2 linked regions of the Homo sapiens genome follow. The protein of the gene in region 2 purifies or fractionates together with the protein of the main gene of each other region. This does not show direct contact. Each region holds a gene or a part of one and is shown on either strand. Other genes may lie near its edges.

The links. Proteins that work in one complex are often made in the same cells at the same time.
Region 1: the proteins of RGL4 (region 2) and OCIAD1 purify together in Homo sapiens (affinity purification with mass spectrometry; 3 studies listed by BioGRID and IntAct, with this or other methods). This does not show direct contact.

What each region holds. Positions count from the first base shown.
Region 1 is NC_000004.12:48,841,063-48,848,091, forward strand, and holds part of OCIAD1 (OCIA domain-containing protein 1), read left to right. Parts: intron 1-1,573; coding exon 1,574-1,627; intron 1,628-7,029. UniProt on the Homo sapiens protein: Maintains stem cell potency. Increases STAT3 phosphorylation and controls ERK phosphorylation. May act as a scaffold, increasing STAT3 recruitment onto endosomes. Involved in integrin-mediated cancer cell adhesion and colony formation in ovarian cancer.
Region 2 is NC_000022.11:23,686,475-23,694,040, forward strand, and holds the start of RGL4 (ral-GDS-related protein), read left to right. Parts: upstream 1-4,538; 5' UTR 4,539-5,556; coding exon 5,557-5,735; intron 5,736-5,860; coding exon 5,861-6,054; intron 6,055-6,194; coding exon 6,195-6,517; intron 6,518-7,284; coding exon 7,285-7,500; intron 7,501-7,566.

The DNA of each region.
Region 1 (7,029 bases), on a different chromosome or scaffold from region 2:
ATTTCATTACGTGTGAAATTACATGAAATTCATATGTTTGCATCTAAAAATAAAGTTTTGTTGGAACACAGCTACGTTCATGTGTTTTTGGATTGTCTTTCGGTGCTTTTGCTTTAAAACGGCAATTGAGTAACTGGGACAGAGATTGGCCCACAAAACCCAAAATATTTACCATCTGGCTCTTCATAGAACGTGTTTGCCAACCTCAGGTCTGGAACAGCACTGTCCAGTGTGGCAGCCAGTAGTCACATGTAGCAATTTAACTTTAAAATAACTTGCAGTGAAAGGATATAAAGCAAAATCATAAAAGGAAAGGGAGCATGGGGTGAAGTCCGGCGGAAACCAGGTCCCAAGAGTTCTCTTCCCAGGGAGTGTAAATTTCTCCAACAGCTAGTCATAACAATGTGTGAAGTTGTATCTACCCGGGGAACTCATTAGAGACTCAGTGCCCACAGTTTTTATTGGGGGCTGGTCACTTATTCACCCTCTGCCTAACAGGTACCAAAATTCCAGACTCCTAGAATGAAAGCAGATGTTTGGCATGAACTGTATTTGTACAAACAGTTTGGGCACAGTGAGCCAATTACGCATATCAATGGGGGGAACTGTTTACCAGTCAAGTACCAAGACCAAATTGATCACAGGGTTGGTCACTCAAAGACCAACTTCCATTATCATAAAAAATTCTGTTAGACAGTGCTGGTGTAAAGAACAGTGATTCATAGCTGTTTTTAAGTTATAGCCCCCTTTGAGATTATGAGTTTTGGATTTTTCACTCTCGGTTTTAGGCATATATATATATAGATGTAATATTTTCATATAGTTTAAGGAGTTCACTAGTTTAGAAGAAAGAACATAAGTGTTTAAAATATGTGCTTTTTAATTTTTGCCCCAGCCACCGTATGATTACGGTCAAATATGTTTTGTATTTTGGTTTAGATGGTATACTAGAGCTTAAAAGCTTGAGATCTGGTATCAGACAGATTTTATTAGAATCTGTAACCAACCATTCAACTAGTTGTTTGGCCTTGAGCAAATTACTTAACATCTCTAAGCTTCAGTTTCCTTATCTTTAAAAGGGTGGTAATAACATTATCTACCTTATAGAAATATGATAAAAAGTATAATAAATGAGATAATGCACATAAGGCGCTTAGCATGATGCACAGAATTTAGTCATTACTCAGTAGTGGTTCTTACTTGTAACTTGTTTCTTACCTCTCCTTCATTAACTTTTTCCCCTTCTCTTACTTCAGAAGTAATTTTGAGTCACTTTTACTGTGTTGTCTTAGTTGATGCTGTTGATGAACAGCTGGCTATTTGGAACCTAAGCCTAGATGGTTCATGAATTATATTGTTTAATATTTTGTGATGTTTTCTTAAATTTAAAATGCTCCTTTAATTTTTCCACTATGTATACAGTACAGCTTTTAAAAATGGAACAGTCTTTTTTAAAGGTCTTAGTTATGCAATATAATTCCTAGATGGTTTTACTGCTATTCATTTATCTAATGAACTTTAGACAAAATCTTTTACTTTTGTTGATGTTAACAAGGTCTTTTTCTTCCTATAGCTGTGCCTTTGGCTGCAACAAGTATGTTGATTACTCAAGGATTAATTAGTAAAGGTAAATATTTAAAATTTGAATTTATTTAGCATTTTGGATACCATGTTTGTTTTGTGGTATTTTCCAGGTCTTTAGAAAAAGTAAAGATAACAATGTATCATATTAAACACTATGTAGAAATTCATTGATGAATTTAAACGTTTTATCTCTGTGGACCCACTGGCTCAAATATCATGACTTGAGAATTTCTCCTGCACTAATAGCATCATTAACAATCTGCAAGAGCAAGAAGGTAACTAAACACCAGTATTAGCAGGGCAAACCTGGTCTAGGTGGGCCAATAGCAACATTATTGCCTAGGAGCTTGTTAGAATGCACATTCATGGGGACCAGGAGTCTGTGTTTTAACAAATTCGAAGTGATTCTTATATAATGATTTAAAGATCAGTAGCTCTCTAAACCAGCTTTGTCTGATCACCTGGGGCGGATGAGTGGCGGTGAGTTAGCATTATTTAAAAAATCAGAATCTCAGGGGTCTGGCAGGTGATCTATTTTTAACGAGCCACCGAGGAGACTTTCTTGTCCTAAAGTCTATTGGCTCAAATAGTACAGTAGTGGAATTGAGTTTAGATTGAGTATTAAATGTCTTGAGTCCTGCATTTAAAATGTAGTGGAGTAAGCAGTAGAGTTGCTTAATTCCTTTACTTCATGAACTATCTATCTGGTAATGGGAAGGTGTCCCAGAAAAGGATGGTGACCTTAGGATGGCCTGGAGGCCTATTGTTTTAATTAACTGGCTCCTTCAAAAATGTGACTTAATGATTGGAAGATTTAGCCTTTTCACATTAGGATATGATGTATGGTACTTAGTTTTGACACAATTAGTTGATAAAAGTAGTTTTGGAGGCAAATGAGAGGATTTTTGGGGTAAAAATTTATTTAAGGAACTTCTGAAGAACTTCATTACAATACAGTACCATGACAAAAATCTTAAACATAGAAGCGAGTCAAGATGTATGCACTTATATGTCCTTAAGACTAAGCTGTTTTATAGACTGAGATTGGTTCTGTATTGTGAAACAACAACAACAACAACAACAAAACAAAAAAAACCCCACTTGAATTACATTCTTTGTAGGAAAAACTGGCACAGGGATGAAATTACAGTGTTTATTATTGTTCTGCTTCTTTTATCTATTTTAATCCAGTGTGTCATTTAATAATGATTGGAGCTAGGTATGCAGAAGGTTACACAAAAGAATTTAATAGCTGCTAGTAGTTCACTGGAGGAAACAAATGGATGTGAACATATGTTGAAGCAAATAGAAAATTTAATTACATACTTAATAAGCTACTAAATTGTATAGTAGAGACTCTAAGAGTTGTAGGTGTTCAAAGAAGAAAGATCTTTGTAGGGCTGTTGTAATCAAGGAAAGTTTCTTGAAAGAAGTGGGTTTTGAAGGATGGGCAGGATTTAGATTAAATGAGAAGAAAGAACATACCAGGAAGGAGGGACCTGATGATGAAGACAAATAGGCATAACTATTGGGAGAGGCAATCAGGACTGAACTGAAGAGACAAAATCATGCAGGGAGGAGTGAAAAATCCATTAAATAGCTGAAGTAGAGCCAGGAGAAATTATAATTTGGATTAGGTTATGAAGAGGAGGAAGTTTTTTAGAGATTTTGGGTTTAGGTGCAGTTGAAGACTTTGGGCTACTTGAGGGTACGGTAGAAGTGATATTGGGAGGCCGAGTCGGGTGCATCACAAGGTTAGGAAATCGAGACCGTCCTGGCCAACATGATAAAACCCCATCTCTACTAAAAATACAAAAAAATTAGCCGGGCGTGGTCGTGCGTGCCTGTAGTCCCAGCTACTCAGGAGACTGAGGCAGGAGAATCGCTTGAACCCAGGTGGCGGAGGCTGCAGTGAGCTGAGATGGCGCCACTGCACTCTAGCCTGGGCAACAGAGCGAGACTCTGTCTCAAAAAAAAGGTAAAAATTGAGAGAGACTTTAAGAAAAGAATTTGGAATCCACCAAGACATTTTGCATTTAATCAAAATCCCTGACATTTTGTACAGTGGTCCTTTTGTGTCTGTGTGGATTGGTTCCAGGACCCTCCAGAGGATACCAAAATCCACAAAAGCTTAAGTCTCTGATATAAAACGGCCTAGTAAAGTTTACGTGCATATCTGCCTGTATACTGTAAATCATCTCTAGATTACTTATAATACCTAAGACTATGTAAACACTATGTAAATAGTTGTTATACTGTATTGTTTAGGGAATAATGACAAGAAACAAGTCTGTACATGTTTAGTATAGATGCAGTTTTTTTTTTCCTAAATATTTTCTATCCGCAGTTGGTTGCAGAACATGTACATATGGAGGGCTGCCTGTATCCCCTTTCATCCACAGTGTGTCATACTCCACGTGGTCTTAGATGTTCCTTCTGTTTCTTCCTGATCTGCCAAAACCATTTAAACATGCTCAGGTCTCCTCTAACTTGAGAACATTAAAAAGAAAAAAAAATCCTCCCTCATTTGTTTTTCCAGCTACTCCCAACTGCCTCATATTTGAAGCCAGAGGCAGACTTCATGAATGAGCCCTTCACTTTTTACTTCGTTTAACCCATTGCAGTCAGTGTGAGACTATCCATATGTTCTACCATTTATTGGAACTTTTCAAAAGTTCAAAAACAAACTTTTCAAAAACAACCTGTTTGTTGCTTAAATATAATGGACAGTTTTTGTTCTTGACCAACGTTACATAACTTTAACCAGTTTTTCTTGAAATAGTCTATTCTCTTGGCTTCCATGATGGCATATTCCTAAGATTTTTCTCCTACCTCAGGCGATTCCTCTGTTTCATGTTTTTTGAGTGTCTGATATGTACTATACATTGTTATATAGCACTAAACAACAAAAATTCATTAACTCTTGGTGCTTACATTCTTGTATGGGTTTTTTTGTCTAGTTGTTTGGGAAATGTTGGTGTTACTATATTTTGGATATAATATATAATATGTATGGCCCTTCTATAGGCTCCTCAAACAGAACTCAACCATTTTCCACAAAACCAATTCCTCCTTTCCCTTCATGACTGAGTGGTGTTAGTACTATCCAGGAAACTGGGACATTATCCTTCACATCTATCCCTTATCTGCCTTGTCCAATTAATGTCTTTTAGCTCTTAAATGTCTTTATTAACTATCTACCTCCATCTGTACTGCCAGCATAATTAATGCAACCATATGTCACAAAGAGTATTGCGTTAACCTTCAACAAATCTGTTTGTTTCCATTCTTGCTACTTCTCCTTAGGAAAATAAGCTATTTCTAGCACCTGACAGAGGACATACATAGTGCACATAGTACTCAAATATTTGAGGGGATGAATAGCAACCATGACACTATTATCTTTGTCTTAACTCTCTCTCTAGACTGTAAATTCCATGAGAGTAAAGAGTGTGTCCTGTTTCCTGTTAATATCCAGTATGTAGTACCTTTATGTTGTAAGTGGTCTATAACTAGTTGGTGACAGTATGAAGGAACAACTTTTTAATGTAAAAATAGAGATGTTCTTACCATCTTCCTTTTTCTATTGTCATCCCAGTTCTTATAAATGAAGGAACTGAGGCTAAAGGCACAGATTAGTTGTCTGTTTTTGTACTTTAATTACATGAAATCATACACTGAAATATTCTTTTATGTAAGTTCTTTCAACATGGTGAGATTCATCCAGTAGCATGCTGGAACTGGTTTGTACTGGCTCCTGAGAATTGGTTGTTAAATTTTCGGGAACTTTGGCAAGCTGGTTTTTAAAGTGTTGGTAGTTGGCCGGGTACGGTGGCTCATGCCGGTAATCCCAGCACTTTGGGAGGCTGAGGCAGGCGGATCATGAGGTCAGGTGATTGAGACCATCCTGGCCAATATGGTGAAACCCTGTCTCTACTAAAAATACAAAAAATTAACTGGGCATGGTGGTGTGCACCTGTAGTCCCAGCTACTTGGGAGGCTGAGGCAGGAGAATTGCTTGAACCCAGGAGGCGAAGGTTGCAGTGAGCTGAGATGGCGCCACTGCACTCCAGCCTGGGGACAGAGCGAGACTCGTCTCAAAAAAAAAAAAAAAAGAATTGGTAGCTTTACACCATGGAAACTGACAAACATTAAAATTAGAGCTTTTTATAGGGAGTGCTGGTTTACCAGCACATCATTGCACTTAACCACATTGTTGCATGTAGTTGCCCTATAGTTTTCCTCTGTGTGAATACACCAGTTTATCTATCTGAACTGTGCATTGATAATTGGTAGTTTTCAATTTTCACTGTTACAATTAGTTTTGCCAAGAATATGGTGCCTTTTTGATAGACATTTTGCTGGGTCATAGATTTTGTATATATTTATTTAGCTTTAGTAGATATTACCAAACTATTTAGACCAATGTATACTCCTACATTCTCACCAACACTAGCTATTTTTATGTCTTTTATGTTTTAGCCATTGTGGTAAATAAACACTAATATTGATTGCATTGTGGCTTGAATTTGTATTTCCCTGTAACCAATGAAGTTGAAGACCTTTCCATTTGTTTATACTTCATTTCAGCATATCTTTTTCTGTGAAGTATCTGTTTAAGTCTGTTAACCATTTTTCCATTGTATTGTCTTTTTTCCTATTGGTTTTGTGAGACTTCTCTGTATACTTTGGAATTGAGTCTTTTGTCAGATATAGATATGGTGATTATTTTTTCCCCACTCTGTTTAACTGTAGTTTTCAGTGTTAATAGAGTCCAATTTATCAGGTTTCTTCTTTCTAATAGGTGCTTTTTGTTGACTCTTTAAGATCTTCGTCTACTCTAAGGACACAAAGATGGTCTCATGCTTTCTTCTGTAAAATTTTTTAAAAAAATCTTTCATATTTAAATTTTTAAGCCATCTGGATTATTGTTCGATGTAGGATCAAGGTACATTTTCCCCTGTTAATGGATATTAATTGACCCAGCACTATATTTGAAAGGACTATGCTGCAGTGTTGTCTTTGTCATAAATCAAGTGTGCAGGTGTGGATCTGTTTCTGGACTCTTAGTTTTGGTCAGTTTGCCTATTCTTGTACTTAATACCAGACTGTCTTAATTACTACAGCTTTATCATGTAGATTTTGCTATCTGGTGGTAGTCAGTTCTATAATACGATTCTTCAGTGTTGCCTTGGCCCTTTGTGTTCCACATGACTCTTAGAATAAGCTTTTCAATTTTTGTAAAACTTTGATTTTAATTGGGATTGCATTGTATTTATAGGTGAAGTTATGGAGAATTGCCATCTTTAGAATATTGGGTCTTTCAATTCTCAGTAAGTTTTATAACTTGTCAGTGTAGAGATCTTTCATATCTTTCATTAGATTTGTTCCTGGGTTTTGAGCGTTTTTTTTTTTGGTGCTATAATTAATTCTGTCTTCTAAAAA
Region 2 (7,566 bases):
CCCCAGGGAAAACTGCCATTGCACTGTCAGCTCCCTCCAGCCCTCTCTCAGGTCCCAGCAGGAGCAGATTTCTGACTAAGCTCAGAGGTCTCAACAAATGGCAGGTTGAACATCAGAGGAGTTATTAATAGGCCTATAGTTACCTCAAGACTCCACCTTACCAGGGCCAAAAATGAGTCCTGGGAGGGCAGCCAGAAAGAAAGTAGGGCAGAGAGGAAACACAGGGAGAGGGGCCCTGGGACCACGTCAGATATGGAGGGAACCAGGGGAACGAGAGCAGCCCTGATGATTGTACTCCCCACAGCCCCTGCATGCCTGTGAACCCTGAGAATTCAGGGTGAGGAGCTCACTCTTGCCTTTCACCTGTTCCTGGGCTCTGGCAGGCTGGCCTGCTTCCTGCCCCAGCCTCACCCACTCTCCGCACTCCTCGCCACTGATGTGGGCAGCTGATCTCTCCGGTTTGCTGGGCTCTCACCCTCTGCCCAATGGCACCAAGTTAACTTCTTCGCATGCTTTATTTTCTGTGATTAAAAAGGGAAACAATTCTCACTAACGCCATTTCTCAGAGGAGAAAACAGGCACAGGGATGTTCTATGACTTCCTCACGATCACCAAGCTACAAGGGGGAGCTGGGCTTTGAATGGAGGTCTACCCATGCTCCTAAAGTTGAGGCGTCCTCCAAGGAAAGGACAGCACCTATAAAAGCTCAATGAATGGGGCGGCAGTGTCACCACTAAGCCCGACCACGCTGCTACTCTGATATCCAACTTCCAGCCTCCAGAACAGGGAGAAATACAGTTCTGTTTTTGATGAGCTCCCCAGGCCGTTACAGCTCTTTCTTTGCTGTAACAGCCTGAACTAGCCCAGAAGTGCTATTCCATCATCTGTGTCATATTCCATCATTCAGAAGGGAGTCACTAACCCCTCAGTGCTGTCTCTGTGGACGCTGCCCACCCTAGGCTGAGATGAGGCACAGGGTCTGGGTCTAAATAAAATGGGAAGGCACTGGAAGGTGCAATGTCATAGGAGGAGGATGTCTGAATTTCATTTAATCTCAACCTCTACTGGTGCAGCATGAAAGATGAGGCCCAGAGCAAAAGTGTCTTTTCCCGAGATCACACTGTGGACCCCAGGCCCACTGGAGTTGCATTAGACGTTACCTCTCACCCCTTCTTGTATTTGTTCCATTTCTAAGTGTGTGCAATATCCACAGGGAACACCACACCATGAGTTTTTAAATATTTATCTCAAACATAACCTCATGAGTTCCCTAGGAAAGAGATGCTAGCATAACCCCCATTGTGCATGCTGGGGAGACCCCAAAACACCAAAGGAGTTCTCTAGGGTCTCACAACTGCTAAAATAAAGGCTGTTTGACCCAGCACTGTCTCCTCAAACCTGGGACCCTGGTTATATCCAGGTCTTCCCAAGGTGCTGAAGGGGCACACTTTTTCATAATGGTGACTACGTAAGGAGTTGACGGGGGAGGGTGAGCGGTCAGAAGCCCAGAGGGGCCTTTGAGTAGGACTTATGGAAAGGAGGAGCTTACAGGATGGAACCTACAAGATGTGACCTCACTTCCTTGCCGACAGACCCCCAACAGAACTTACAATTCTGGTAACTAGGCACCCACATTCTAGAGACAGCCCCATTTCCAGCTCACTTCGTAGGCGATGCTCGAGAGAACAACATGTTCTCCTGCTGTATCCCGACATGCTGCCGACCTCCTCGTCGCACAAGAGGCCAAAATGAGAGTCTTTCCCGAGAATATAGACATTGGTTCAACCCTCACCCTCGACGCCTCTGGCCCTTTGCCAGAAGGCACCCACAGGTAACACAGGGCCCAGGGCAGGCCCATCCAGGCTAGGCCTCAGCTGTGCCCATCAGGGCAGCCTCAGGCCCCTCCCCACTTGTTTGGGGGAAACAGGAGATGAGGGGCCCTCCCTGGATAGGAGCAGGTAGGTTGTCAGGTGTTTGGAGCCTGGTAGGTATGTCAGGTTCACAGCCCAGGCAGTGCCTGGCAGGATGGGAAGGTGAGTGTCAAGGACACAGTTTGTCTGCTCAGATCTGAATCCCAAGTCCTCAAGCTGTCATCTGCCGGAGACCTCAGGCTTCTCTGGCTGGAGGTCTATGCAGATGCTCCTATGTGCCAAATCCTGTTGGGGAAGGGGGTGCCAGGGATGAGTTCTAATGGGGGTGTCCCACTGTGGGGTCAGCCAGACAGGCCACTGACACCTCTTGGCCCGGCTCTCGGGCACTCTCTTTGCAGAGCTCCACACAACAGACCAAACAAGAGCTGTTGGATGGATTCAATTTCTCCATATTCTTCAAAGGGCACGTGCACCACACCACCAACCACGTCCAGTGCCGGTCTGCGGTGAGATTGGGCACAGAAGGGTCTCCACAGACAGGACTTGTGAAAACCAAGGTGGGCCCAGGACTCAGACACGAATATGGGGACTCCCTAAGCTCCATCCTAGGGCGTTCCCACTTGAGTGACCCACTGTCCTCTCCCAAAGGAATCTGGCTGCCATTAGTCCCCAGTGGCAACTTGGTTACAGGCAAAGTCCCTTTCACCTATCAGAGGAAGACCAGAGAAAATCCTTCTGTTTTCACTTTAGGCTATGCCAGGAGTATCTCGGCATGTTGCTTTAAGAATTGAGTACAATGGTAACATTGCAGCAAAATACTCACACTGTTATCATTTTAACTCCCCACCCTAAGTGGATCTCCGGCAACAGGCAGGCAGCTCCGCTGCCCTGCCAGACCTCCTCCAGGACTTAAAATCCAACACTTTTGCACAAACAAGGGGTGGGGGTGGGGGGGGTGCATTGATTACAACAAAAGAAGGTGAAGCGACTCTATGCATTAGTCTTTAAAGTGTCATCTCACAGAACTCATCCCTGCAGCCCCATCAGGCAGGAGTTGTACCCTCGCATGTCATTGTAACATTCCTTAAGGGAGGCCATTTTCCACAGCGGGTCAGCCTCTCAGTGCTGGTGGAGCCTGTCATGATAAAATTCCCTTTCGAGGCAGCCTTTCTACAAGGAGCATAATCCTATGCGTGTCCTAATAGGCTGGAGCAGTTTGCCAGGGCTGCCATAACACGGCACCCTGACTGAAGGGCTTAACCACAGAAATCTGGTTCCTCACAATTCTGGAGACTGGAAGTCCAACGTCAAACTGTCAGCCTGGGGTGGTTTCTCTGGGCCTCTCTCCTTGCCTTGGAGATGGCGGACTTCTATCTCAGTCAGCACAGGGTCTTCTCTTGAACTTCTCTGTGCGCTGACCCCCTCTCCTTGTAAGAACCCCAGGCATGTTAAATTAGGGGCCACCCTAATGAACTCACTTCACCTGAATTACCTCTTGGAGTACTCTGTGTCCAGACACAGTCACATTCTGAGTCTCTGGGGTTGAGAATAGAAACAGTTACATTTGGGGAAGGGGACACAATTCAACCCATAAAATAAACAAATCCCCTGCAGCAGACAGACACCCAGGAAAGGGATATCTGGGTGAAAGGATATGCAGATATCAACTTTCAACAGCTCTAGCTAGTTGACTTTCCAAAAGGGCTCCAGCTGGTCACACGGTCACCAGCAGCCTCTGAAGGTAGCTGCTTCTCTGAACGCAGCCTCCCCTGAATACTAACACGCTTTTAACTTTTCGCCAACCTGCTGTCTGTGTGGCAGAGAAAATCCTTGTTTCATTTCCACTTTCAAACATACATTTGCGTAACCTTTCACGGGTTCAATACCTGCCTGCGTTTTCCCCAAGTCGCCTCGCAGATCCTGGGCCTTGGGACGCGCTTCCTCCCACCCTGGAGTCTTCCGGCATTTTCCCCTTGGCCAGGGCTGGGATGGCCGTAGCTGTTTCTCCAGACTCACGTTCATGTTAAAGGAACAAAAACAATCATATACCTTTAAGTCAAAGAGTTCTTCTAGAGCGTATTGTCCTGTGTGCTGTTGCTGAAATGAGGAGGGGATGAGGCCTCCCCAGGCCTTGAGGACTTGCAGGGATGATGCTCTTCATGCAGGTTGCTGACACAGAGGGTGCTGTTGCCCCACAGCTGACAAACACCGGGACGATGCCTTGAAGGCAGGAATCGTTTTATCATTCTCCATCCTCACATGCAATGTTACTTTGAAAGCCTAGAACGCTTTTCACCATGGGCACCCAGGTTCTCCATATGCACAAGTCCCTGAAGGGTTGGTGCTTCTTGGTGTGAGTTCCAGATCCCGATCCTCTGGTGGTCCATGGTGTTACCACTGACTCCCATGTCCCTCCTTGTCCCCCTAGTATGAAAATGAGATCTGCAGGATGCTAACTTTCCAGCCCGGCACTGGGGAGAAGCTGTTGGGAGTCCCTGGTTCCAGCCTTTCTAACTAAACCCATCTCCTCCTATGCCACCTGCCTGGGCCCCTCCTGGGACTTTATCACTGTGCCACACTTTTTGGAACTACTGGTTAGAAGGTGAGTGTCCATCCCCCTCCAAGACACAGAGGTGCCTCTGTCCCCTACTGGCTCTGTCTTGAAGATGCACCTCTCGGAGCCTCGGTTGGCTCCTCTGGAACAGGGAGTAGTGAGAAGACGAACCTCACAGGGTTCTTGTAGGGACTCAATGATCTAAGACACAGCAAACAAAGGGGTCCCTAGAGCCTAAAACTCTGGAAAATCTGCTGGGGGTGCTGTGATTCATGTTTGTTACTTTTCTCTTCCCCCTCACTTGAAGCAGCTCTCAGCATTCTGCCTCAATGGCCTGTATCACTCACTGTTTGGAAAAACACATAGAAACCAAGTCTGCGATGGCACTGGTAAAGGATGTCTGAGATTCCTTCTGGCTGGTCTTTCTCCTTGACACAGACAGAAGAGGGGTCCCTTGGTGCTGAAAAAGGAGCCACAGGCCCACTCAGACATCTGGAGAGGCTCACTGGGGTTCTCCAAAGGTTGGGGTTCACTCATTCAACACATACATTCAAAACACCTCATTTGTGCATCGCTCTTCTTGGGGCTTGGCATAATTTCATAAACAAAGCAGATGACAATCCCCCGGCCTTGATTCTACTCAGAGTCAGGCACTCACAGTAGACAGAATAAACAAGTCATATCTACAGAATGTTACAGGTGAGACCCTCATGGCCTCCTCTACGTATGGTGGCATCCTCCCAGATTCTGACTAGAATGACGCAGCCCAGCAACAAATATAAACTGGGTGGATTTAGGGTTCTGAAGGGCCTTTTCACCCACAAAACATGGGGGAAAATATGTGGACTCTGGCTGGGGAGAGACTAAAGGAGCTCTGGGGCTCATACTTCTTATAATTCCCACGAGAAGGCTGACATCTGGGGACTTCCCCCACAAGAGGCAAATAGTGAGTTCTGTAAATGGAGACTTAGGTCCCCTGCAAAGCAGAGGGGAGGCTGGGGTCACAGCTGGCCACTGAGAGACCCATCCCCCTCAGCACCGTGGCTTCCCAGCTCTCCCTGTCCTCCTCCCCCCGACATCTGCCCCTTCCCTCCTAACCCCAGGACCAGGGGACCCAGATCTGGAGCTTTGATGAGGAAGCTGCTCACAAATCTGCCTGCAGCTGCAGTCTTGAGTGCCCAGGTGTACAGTGCTGTGCTCCAGGGCCTTTGGGAAGAGAATGTCTGTGGGACGCCAGGGCGCACGAGGGTCTGTACAGCCCTGCTGTATGGCCAGGTCTGCCCCTTCCAGGACAGCACTGATGGCTTACGGTAGGGTGGGGCTGTCCTCCACACTGGCAGCAACAGGCCAGGGACCCAGAACCACGCAGGGGTGCCCTGGAGGGTTGTGTGGGAGAAGGCCAGGCCTCTGACTCAGCTGTCTACTCCATCACCAGCACCATCACCTCCATTTTGTTCAACTGGCCCCCCGAAAACACTTCAGTTTACTATCAGCCCCCGCAACGGTCATCTTTCCGGATAAAGCTGGCCTTCAGGAACCTCTCCTGGCCTGGACTGGGCTTGGAGGACCATCAGGAAATTGTCCTAGGCCAGTTGGTGCTTCCGGAGCCCAACGAGGCCAAGCCAGATGGTGAGGGGGCTTGCAGTCTGCAAGACTTTCCGGGGGTGGTGTTTTGGGGCTACAATTCCCTTAAATTCCACCCGGTCATTTCTGTGCTTGGAAAACCCAGTGAAAAATGACTGGTGTGGTGACCTTTTCTCCTTTTCCAGATCCTGCTCCACGTCCTGGGCAACACGCATTAACAATGCCGGCCCTGGAGCCAGCACCACCACTGCTGGCGGACCTGGGGCCTGCTCTGGAGCCAGAGTCACCTGCAGCCCTGGGTCCACCAGGATATCTACATTCAGCACCAGGGCCAGCACCAGCACCAGGGGAAGGGCCCCCTCCAGGGACAGTGCTGGAGCCACAGTCAGCCCCAGAGTCCTCCTGTCCCTGTCGTGGGTCTGTAAAGAACCAACCCAGTGAGGAGCTGCCTGACATGACGACCTTCCCTCCCAGGCTGCTGGCAGAGCAGCTGACCCTCATGGATGCGGTGAGCAGCTGAGCTTTGCAGGCTGTGTCTCTGGCACCAGCTGTCTCAGACCAGCCTCTCCCTGAGGAGCAGCCAATGCCCTCGGTCCAATTTCAGCCCCACTTCTTACCAACCGTGGGATCTGGATGAGTTTCCTCACCCACAAGCCTTCCCTGTCTGCATGTGGACGGCAGAGATGGGACATCACCAGCGCCAGCTGCACAGAGTGACTGTGCAGACTGAGTGACAGGAGATGGACAGAAAGCAGGGCAGGGCAGGTGCTCACTGTGGGGCAGGCAGGGCCATGGGTCACTCACCCAGCTGCTCAGGAGCCTCACTACCCTCAGCACTTATTAGGTACCTGATGCATACTGGATTCTATGGTAGACACCCAAACAGAGCCCATAGTTGCAGCTGCCACAAGGAAAGTGCACCGGTACGGAGAGGAGTAGTAGAGGGCTGATTGGGATGGGAGGAAGACGAGGCCTCAGGATGGGCAGGCCTGAGCCACCTTCTAGTTCTTAGAGTGTGGATGGCCTGGGAGAAAATGTCACTCTCTCTTCCCACCCTTGTTGGGTTCTAGGCCATGATGCATTCAGGTCCCTCGGGGGCAGAAAACCAAACCCAGGGACTCCCACAAGTCTGGAGCCCATTTTAAAGCTTTCTGAGCTCCAGCTTGGTTCCTGCCAGAGACCGTGGATGACTGTGAGCTCAGTCCCTGCCTGGGACTGTGGGTGACTCTGAGCTGCAGTGTGCTGTGTCCGTGACACTCTCCTCCTCCCCCAAAGGAGCTGTTCAAGAAGGTGGTGCTCCACGAATGCTTGGGCTGCATCTGGGGCCAAGGACATCTGAAGGGGAATGAGCACATGGCACCCACAGTTCGTGCCACCATCGCACACTTCAACAGGCTCACCAACTGCATCACCACCTCCTGCCTCGGGGACCACAGCATGAGGGCCCGGGACAGGGCCAGGGTGGTGGAGCACTGGATCAAGGTGGCCAGGGTAAGCTATGGTTGGGCCTGGGGATTCCCTCTTTAAAAATGGGGAACTTCCTCTTCTCCTCCATCG